Homo sapiens: one gene and its partner. The protein of the gene in region 2 binds, or shares a complex with, the protein of the main gene of each other region. Links are inferred from orthologs where the notes say so. Each region holds a gene or a part of one and is shown on either strand. Other genes may lie near its edges.

Evidence for each region.
Region 1: the proteins of CLOCK (region 2) and CIPC are in contact, whole or in part, in a crystal structure (PDB 5VJI), measured with the Mus musculus proteins. The link is inferred for Homo sapiens from one-to-one orthologs. Residues at the interface, in NP_001276755.1 of Mus musculus: Gln519, Leu526, Lys527, Leu530, Arg533, Ile537, Asn540, Ile541, Arg543, Gln544, Glu547, Leu548, Ile551, Gln554, Leu555, Val558; in XP_006515773.1 of Mus musculus: Asn401, Thr402, Val405, Leu406, Ser409, Leu411, Ile414, Thr415, Thr418, Leu421, Ile422, Asn425, Thr428, Gln429, Leu432, Leu435, Lys436, Thr439, Gln440, Phe442, Ile443, Thr446.

The regions. Positions count from the first base shown.
Region 1 is NC_000014.9:77,101,107-77,104,857, reverse strand, and holds part of CIPC (CLOCK-interacting pacemaker), read right to left. Parts: intron 1-3,751.
Region 2 is NC_000004.12:55,545,180-55,548,930, forward strand, and holds the start of CLOCK (circadian locomoter output cycles protein kaput), read right to left. Parts: upstream 1,731-3,751; 5' UTR 1,603-1,730; intron 1,438-1,602; exon of another isoform or gene 274-1,437; intron 1-273. UniProt on the Homo sapiens protein: Transcriptional activator which forms a core component of the circadian clock.

The DNA.
Region 1 (3,751 bases), on a different chromosome or scaffold from region 2:
TAGAATGAACAGAATAGGCATCTGTCGCTTCCTTCTTGTAGCTTATGATCTAGAGAGAGACAGTCATTAATCAAGTAATCACTCAACTAGCGACCATTTTGATAAGAGCTATAAATGGGAGAGGCTAACAGTCTGGGGGACTGAGGAAGTGCACCATAGCTGGGATCTGGAGGATTGGGAATTAGTAGGAGTTAGGCGAAAGGCATGTTCCAGGCAGTGTGAAGGCCCTAAGGGAGCAAGGGGCTTGGCACAAACAAAGAACTGAAAGGCCAGGGAGGCCAGAGCACAGTGTAGAAGGGTACAATGCCATGCACTGATGCCAGACTGGTAGTCAGGGAACAGACAGGCAATACCTTGGAATCCATGTTGGAAGGATTTTAGATATTAACTTAAACGCAATGGGAAGCCATGGAAGAATTTTAACCAGAAGTGTGACATGATCAGATGTGCATTTTATTTATCTTATTTTTTGAGACAGTGTCTCACTCTGTCACCCAGGCTGCAGTGCAGTGGCGTGATCATGGCTCGCTGCAGCCTCAACTGCCCAGATGGAAGCGATCCTCCCCTCAGCCTATGGAGTAGCTGGGACAACAGGCATGTAGCACCACACCTGGCTAATTTTTTGTTTTTTGTAGAGACAGGATCTCACTTTGTTGCCTCAGCTGGTCGTGAACTCTTAGGCTCAAACAATCCTTCCACCACGGGCTTGGCTCTGGGCCTTGGCTTGGCTTGGCATCCCAAAGTGCTGGGATTACAAGTGTACACCAGCTTTGCATTTTAAAAGCATTCTGGATGCTGAACTGAGGCTAAAGTGGAGAAGGGCAAGAGTGGCATTGAGATCATTTAGTTGCTACCGTGACAGTCCAGGTGAATTAAGGTGGTGGCAGTAGAGATGGGAAGAAGAAAAACATGGAGGCCCACCTGATGGGACTGGGTAGGGGGAAGATGGTGGTACCACTTTCTCAGCTAGGGAGCCCAAGAAGTGCACAGAAGGGAGTTGGGTGGGTGGGGCAGGGTGGCATGGTCATGTAGATTTGGTCATGTAGAGACTGAAGTTACTGTGGGTCATCTAAGTGGAGATCCTGGGTAGGCAGTCACATGTAAGACTGAAGCCCAGGAGAGAGGCCTATATTTGCTCCAGTGATAAACAGCTAGTCCACAGCAGATCCAGACCTAGATCAACAGTGCCAAGAATAAGACCAATTGGCCCTTCAAATTGCTGGCTGAGAATAAGAACATTCCAGATATTTTAACATGGCCATTTGAGTCACCAAGGAATGGCAACTGTAAGGCCAGCATGATAATAACACAAGGAATACCACTGGCATAAGGAGAACAGGCCAACAGGGAACATGACAATAATGAAACTGGGAAGATGCAAGCAAAGCCTTGTGATGTTTTAATTCACGATGCACTCCTGACTCTATCCTGTTGTTCTTTGAGTGAAGAAAAACACAAGCCCCCTGCCAAATACCACTGTATCTGGAATACCCTGGAGTGCCAAGTCTGGACATTCCTGCTAATATAAGATCTAGTGAAGAACATTAACTACCCTAGAAGCAGTTCAAAATAAAATTAAATAGAAGACAAGGATGCTTATAAGCAACCCTCTTGCTCGTACTTTTGCATACTGTAGGAGCAGACTAAAGGGAACACAAACTGAACTGAATGAGAATGAATTTTAAACACAATTCCAAGTAAAAATCATTTTGCCCCGTATCTAACTCATTTAAGGGGACTGGCTTCCTCATTCAACTGACATCAAATCAAGCACTCTTCCACAGGTCACACGTTTAATCCTATGTGCATAAAAGATAAACAGTGGCACTGTCACAACTTGCAGAGAACTATGCAAAAGCAATGTCTATCTGACAGCTATGAAATTTGACAGCATGGACGGCCCAGCTTAAAAAGTAGACTAAAGTGTAAAACTATATCTCTAATTAAATTGGATCCTTTTGTATGAAATTCAACAAATGTGCATAGTATAATTTTCCTAAAATAATACTGTCCAAAAGTGAATAGAAGCCATCTCCAAAATGGAAGTAGATGAGGCTTGTGGATGGGCATTCAAACTAATTCATGTCGGACCAGGCTGTTGATTTAGATTAGGAGGGTAGCTCATGTTAGTTGCAACTAATTAAGAACCTTACTTAGGTTCTTAGGTTCTTGAAGTTTCACATTATCTTACTAAACATGGATTATTTTACAGGTACTTTAGATAATGCATCCCAATTTAGTCTTCTACAATCCTTGCGGCAAAACAATGAAAAAGGTCTTGCTATTATTATTAAAGTGTAGTCAATAGAGCTACAGAAAATACACAGGAATTTATTCTGGCTTATTGAGAATTTGTAGGATAAGAGATAATTGATCATGGAGTCAAAATACTGAAACACTGACAATCGGTTTTTGAGGCTCAGAAAATAATACTCCCAAGTATGGCACTTTAGCATAATGAGCACTTTGTTGTTGCTTTTTGTTTTTTTCTGAGACTGTGTCTTGCTCTGTCGCCCAGGCTGGAGTGCAAGGCCACAAACACAGCTCACTGCAGCCTCGACTTCCTGGCCATAAAGAAATTATCTGACCTGTCTTGTCCGATAGCAGATCATAAAACCCTCATTCCAGAATGGGTCCTGCCCTATAACAGAGAGGAAGGAATGCTACACAGAGGTCAAGAATAATTCTGGACAGACAGACCTTGCTGGGTTTCCCACCTCAGTCCATTACTATTAGATCATACTCTTTTTGTTTTTGTTTTGTTTTTTATTTATAGATGGATCACACGCTGTTGCTCAGGCTAGAGCGCAGTGGCACGATCACAGCTAACTGCAGACTCGACCTCCTGGGCTAAAGTGATCCTCCTGCCCTAGCCTCCTGAGTAGCTGGGACTCCAGGCGCATACCACCACACCCAGCTAATTTTTAAATTTTTTGTAGAGACTGGGTCTTGCTATGTTGCCCAAGCTGGTCTCAACCTCCTGGACTCAAGCAATCCTCCCACCTCAGCCTCCCAAAGTGCTGGGATTACAGGCATAAGCCACCATGCCCAGCCAGATCATACCCTTTTTGTCCAATCATATTTCTACACAGCCGTCCATTCTTCATCAAACCTAACCATAAAAATAGACAGTTTTCCCTGAGTTTGGGAGGCTTCACTTCTGAAGACTCCTGTGTCATAAAAAAAACTTTGATTAAATAAAACTGTTATGTTTTTCTCTTGTTAACCTGTCTTTTGTTATGGGAGGGTCAACTATGACCCTTATGGTAGGTGAGGAAAGGTATCACAGAGGTAAGTTAAAAAGAGAACAGATGCTAAATTTAGATCCTGGGGAGTTGGTGGCAGTTGGAAATAAAGAATGTAAAATCGACTTTAGGATGGCAAATTGACTATTTTTCATATGAAAATGATTAAAAATATGAAAGCCTCTATCTTCAGTAAAGTTCTCTTAAGCAGCAAAAAGCCTTAGCATTGCAGCCAGGGAGGCTCACATGGGATGTAGAACAAAGGGCTACATCCCTCCCCAAACTTTACTCTTTCGGAGGAGTAGCAGCACTGCCCTCCTGGGAGTGGCTGAGGGACCCACTCACACATAGCACCACATAAAGCCTCACTTACTACTGGTGCTCTCAACCCCAAAATTTGCAAGGCAAAGTCTGAAAACCTCGGGAAGTTGCTTGATTTTTTTCCTCTTAGATATTAGTTTACAATAAAGTTACATGCTCACACTGACTAGGAGTTGAAAATGGAT
Region 2 (3,751 bases):
CATTAGGTATTTCTCCTAATGCTACAGGCTAACCTTTCAAGACATTCTGTTCAGCCAACCACTTATCACAGGAATTAATTTCCTTCCCCCAAGCTTTGAAAACCAATCAGATTTGAGGTGTCCCAAGGGATAAGTTTCAGAGAAAGCAATTCATTATCTAAATTACATCCTTTTAAGAATGTTTATTTTCAAACAGGTAGAGGGGAATATTGCACAATTTTCTCTAATCGCTTAAAGCTACAAATCAGAACGCAATCTTCAAAGTGAAATTACCTTTGATTTGGGGGGATCAGCGTTATAGTCAAATCAACGACTGTAAAAGTTTACTTCTTGTGCTTTTCTTCCACTGTAAAAATTTTTTTATTTTTTAAAGAAGGCTAAAAAGCCTTAAAGTCTAATAGCACGGCATTCTAATAGCAGGAAACCACAATCTGATTTGATCTTTCATCTGCCAGGTCAGAGACTAGGCTTTTATCTTGCAGAATTAGGCTCACCTACCATCAACAAGAGGACCTCTACAAAGCTACAAACACTTTCAAAGAATATAAACTCTGCGGCGCTGCGTGTAGGAAATTACACTCCAGGGGCCAGAGCGCCAGAGCCAACTCCAGAAAACCCAGCTTCACTGGCGGAAAGAAATCTACAAACGCCAGCGGCGGTGACGGGGAACGGGAAGCGCGGGTGGACGGAAGAAGAGAAACCGAGCGCCTCGCCGCCAACCCTCGAACCCGCGCGCGGTCGCTGGAGTCAGACGCTAATAGCCGCGCGCTGCCTAGGAACGGAACCCCGGAACCACCACCACTAACGGAACCAGCCCGCGGCCGGCAACGGCGGCCGTTCGGACTGCGGACTGCGGCACGCGGGCCGGGCGCCGGGAGGGCGGGGGTTCCCCGGAGGAGCTGGCCGCCCCGGCGCCCCATTGGGCGCTGCTCCAAACGTGCCCGAGTGGTGACAGGAATAAAGTGGGTCACAAGGCCTAGCGGGTCCCCAGCGAAAGCTCTCTCGGCACCCGGTCCCCGTCTTTCCCCGCCTCCCAGCTGCTGGAATCGGCCGCAGCTCCGGGCGCCCTCAAGCCGCCCGGCCCCGCCGTGCACCCCACTCCCGCCCCTGCCCCGCAGGTAACCCCAGCTGCCCCAGAGGGCCTCTCAGGCAGGGCGGGCCTCGGCCCGAAGTCCCGGGAAAAGACACACTAGAACGACACGCCAAACTTGGGCTTCAGCTCCCGCCTTCCCCACCCTTGGCCGCCGCCCCCCGGCCCCACACACGCCGCCCCCCGCTCCCTCCCCTTCCCCGCGCCCTCACCGTGTGGCTTGCGGCGGCTCCGGCTTCTTCCCTCCCCCACCCAGGTCTCCCGCTGCGGTGACTCGGAACCACTACCCCGCCTGTGTCCAGGAGGCGCCGCGGCTCCCACCTCCAGCAGCACCTGGGGCTGTGAGTGGCGCCCCCCACCCACCCCCCCAAAAATTCGCCGCTCCTGTGGCCAGCTCCTCCTCCCCCTCCCTTCCCTTCCCCTCCTCCACCAGCCCAGGAGCGCGCATGCGCCGCCAAGGAAGCCAACCGGCACTCGGCAGGCCCTGGGCCCACCGGGCGGGCGCCTCTCACCGGGAGCGCTCGCGGCGGCGGCGGCCAGATTTCCTTCGCGCTCTCGCTCTCCGGGGTTTCCTTTTTTAAACCGGCAGCCGCAAGCCGAGTCCGTGATTGCGCCCCCTCCCGGCGCATGCGTCGTCAGCGACCCCGCGGGCTCAGACGGCCGGCGGAGGCTCTGCGCTCGCCCCTCCCCTCACTCTCCCTTTCCCCAGCGCGGCTCGGTGCGCATGCGACTTGCCCCGTTAGGCAGCACGGAGCCGCGCCAGGGGATCCCGGACGCCCGAAGAGACTCCCGCGCCCCTTGGGCCGAAATCTGGCTCTGCAGGCGCACCGTTCCCTGCCCCGGCCGGGAACGGCGCCGGTTACTAGAAAGCCGGGGAGGCGGGGCCTGGTCGGGTGGAGGGCGCGGCCGGCCGGCAGAGCGCTAGCCTTAGGTCCTGGAGGCTCTTTGGCTTTCCCCCCGTATGCCGGGGGCTAGGAGGAGGAAGAAGAGCTTCCTGCCGGATGAGGGATCCAGAGGCCAGAAAAGGAACCCGCTCTCCCTTCCAAAGCAAAACACTGCCGACGCCAGCTTAGATTTTTCGGGTGTTGGCAGGAGACTTTTTCCCCCAGTGGCATCATTCGTGTTTCCTCTCCTGGTGCTGGGAGAGAAGAGTTGCAAAGGCGCCTGGACCGCCAGTAACATCTTCTCCCATCTCCTGAGGGAGCGCGGCTTGGGTTGCTTCTTCTTGGTGGGTGGGCCTGGGGAGACAGGGCATGCGCCCTCGGCCAGAGGAGGGAAGCGAAAGGAGGTCGGGATTTATTTGCTCATTTGGAGATTTTTCCCTTGCCCTTTTATTAAAAATCAAGTGACAGTGTAATGGAAGATGGAGAATGAAGCATCAGAAATAAACCAGGACCCTAATTTGCATGGATTTCCTCGTTGGAACAACGTGTGACTACTACTTATCTTCGGGAAATTACTTATCTTGATGCGTTAAGGCACATTTGGTCCACATGAGAAAGCACATTTCAGTGCTTCTACTGGAAAAGAGATCTTTACAGTCTTAATTCCTAGTAATTCCTATGTTTTAATGAATATCTTTTGGATTTGAAATAAAAGCCATCTTTTTCTTTCAAAAAATGCACTTTTCTGGCCGTAAAATCCTCCCTTTAAAGTAACAGTCACCTCAGTAAACATTTTCAATTCTTGCTGTATGCTCTGGGCAAAAGAACATCAAACTGAAGCACTTATTCAGATCCTTGATCCTGCACCTAAGGATTTTTCTTTCAGGAGTGGGAAAACATGATTTGTTAATTTACCCCATCATATAGCAGAAGATATTTTGGTCGACATTTTTGCCTGTTCAGCATTCATTCCCTATTCTGATAATTTCTTTTGAAGAACTATCATTTATCCACTCTCAGTCCATATGGTCTGAGCAGGACACAAGGGGAAGGCATATTTGAGTTTAATCCTCGGTTGCAAACTACGGTTCCTAAGAAGGGTGTTACGTCTTTACCAATGGGTTTAAATCTGGGAGAATGGAGACCTGGAGCCATCTTTCCACACGTGAATTCTGAGAAAGAAGGCAACACGGAAAAAAAGCAGATTTGAAGACAGGTTTGGCCTAAAGACATGTTTGAGGCCTGGAAACAAATGTAGATTAGATTCCTCTGGAAATTTCGTTAAACCAGTCAGTAAATTCTTGCATCTGTTTTATTGCTTAAACCAGTGAGAGGTTTTCTTTCACATGTAATCAAGAGTCCCGACTGACAAGAGGTAGGTAGCAAGACGGAGGCAAAGTTATTAATACTGATAAGGTAGGTTGCAGCCAGACAAGAGAGGGCTTGAATGCTTTCCCTAGGATGGATTTTTGAATTTTATTCTAGAGACACTGATCCCTCCTTATATTCCCCATCATCTAGAACATATTATCTTCAAAATACCTTTGCCCTTTTTAATGATTTCATTGTCCTCTCAGTCACCAAGATCAAACCATGTCCATCTTTGACTCCTCCCTCTTTCACTGTATTTAATTATTTACCAAGACCTGTTGATAATCCCCCGTTTTTCTGCTCAGTCCTCTCTCACTGCTTGAACATTTCCCATGGTTCAGTTCACAGCTTCTCCTTTCTCCCACATTCTCTCCAAGAAAAGAAAAAATGTACTGGATATGTCTTT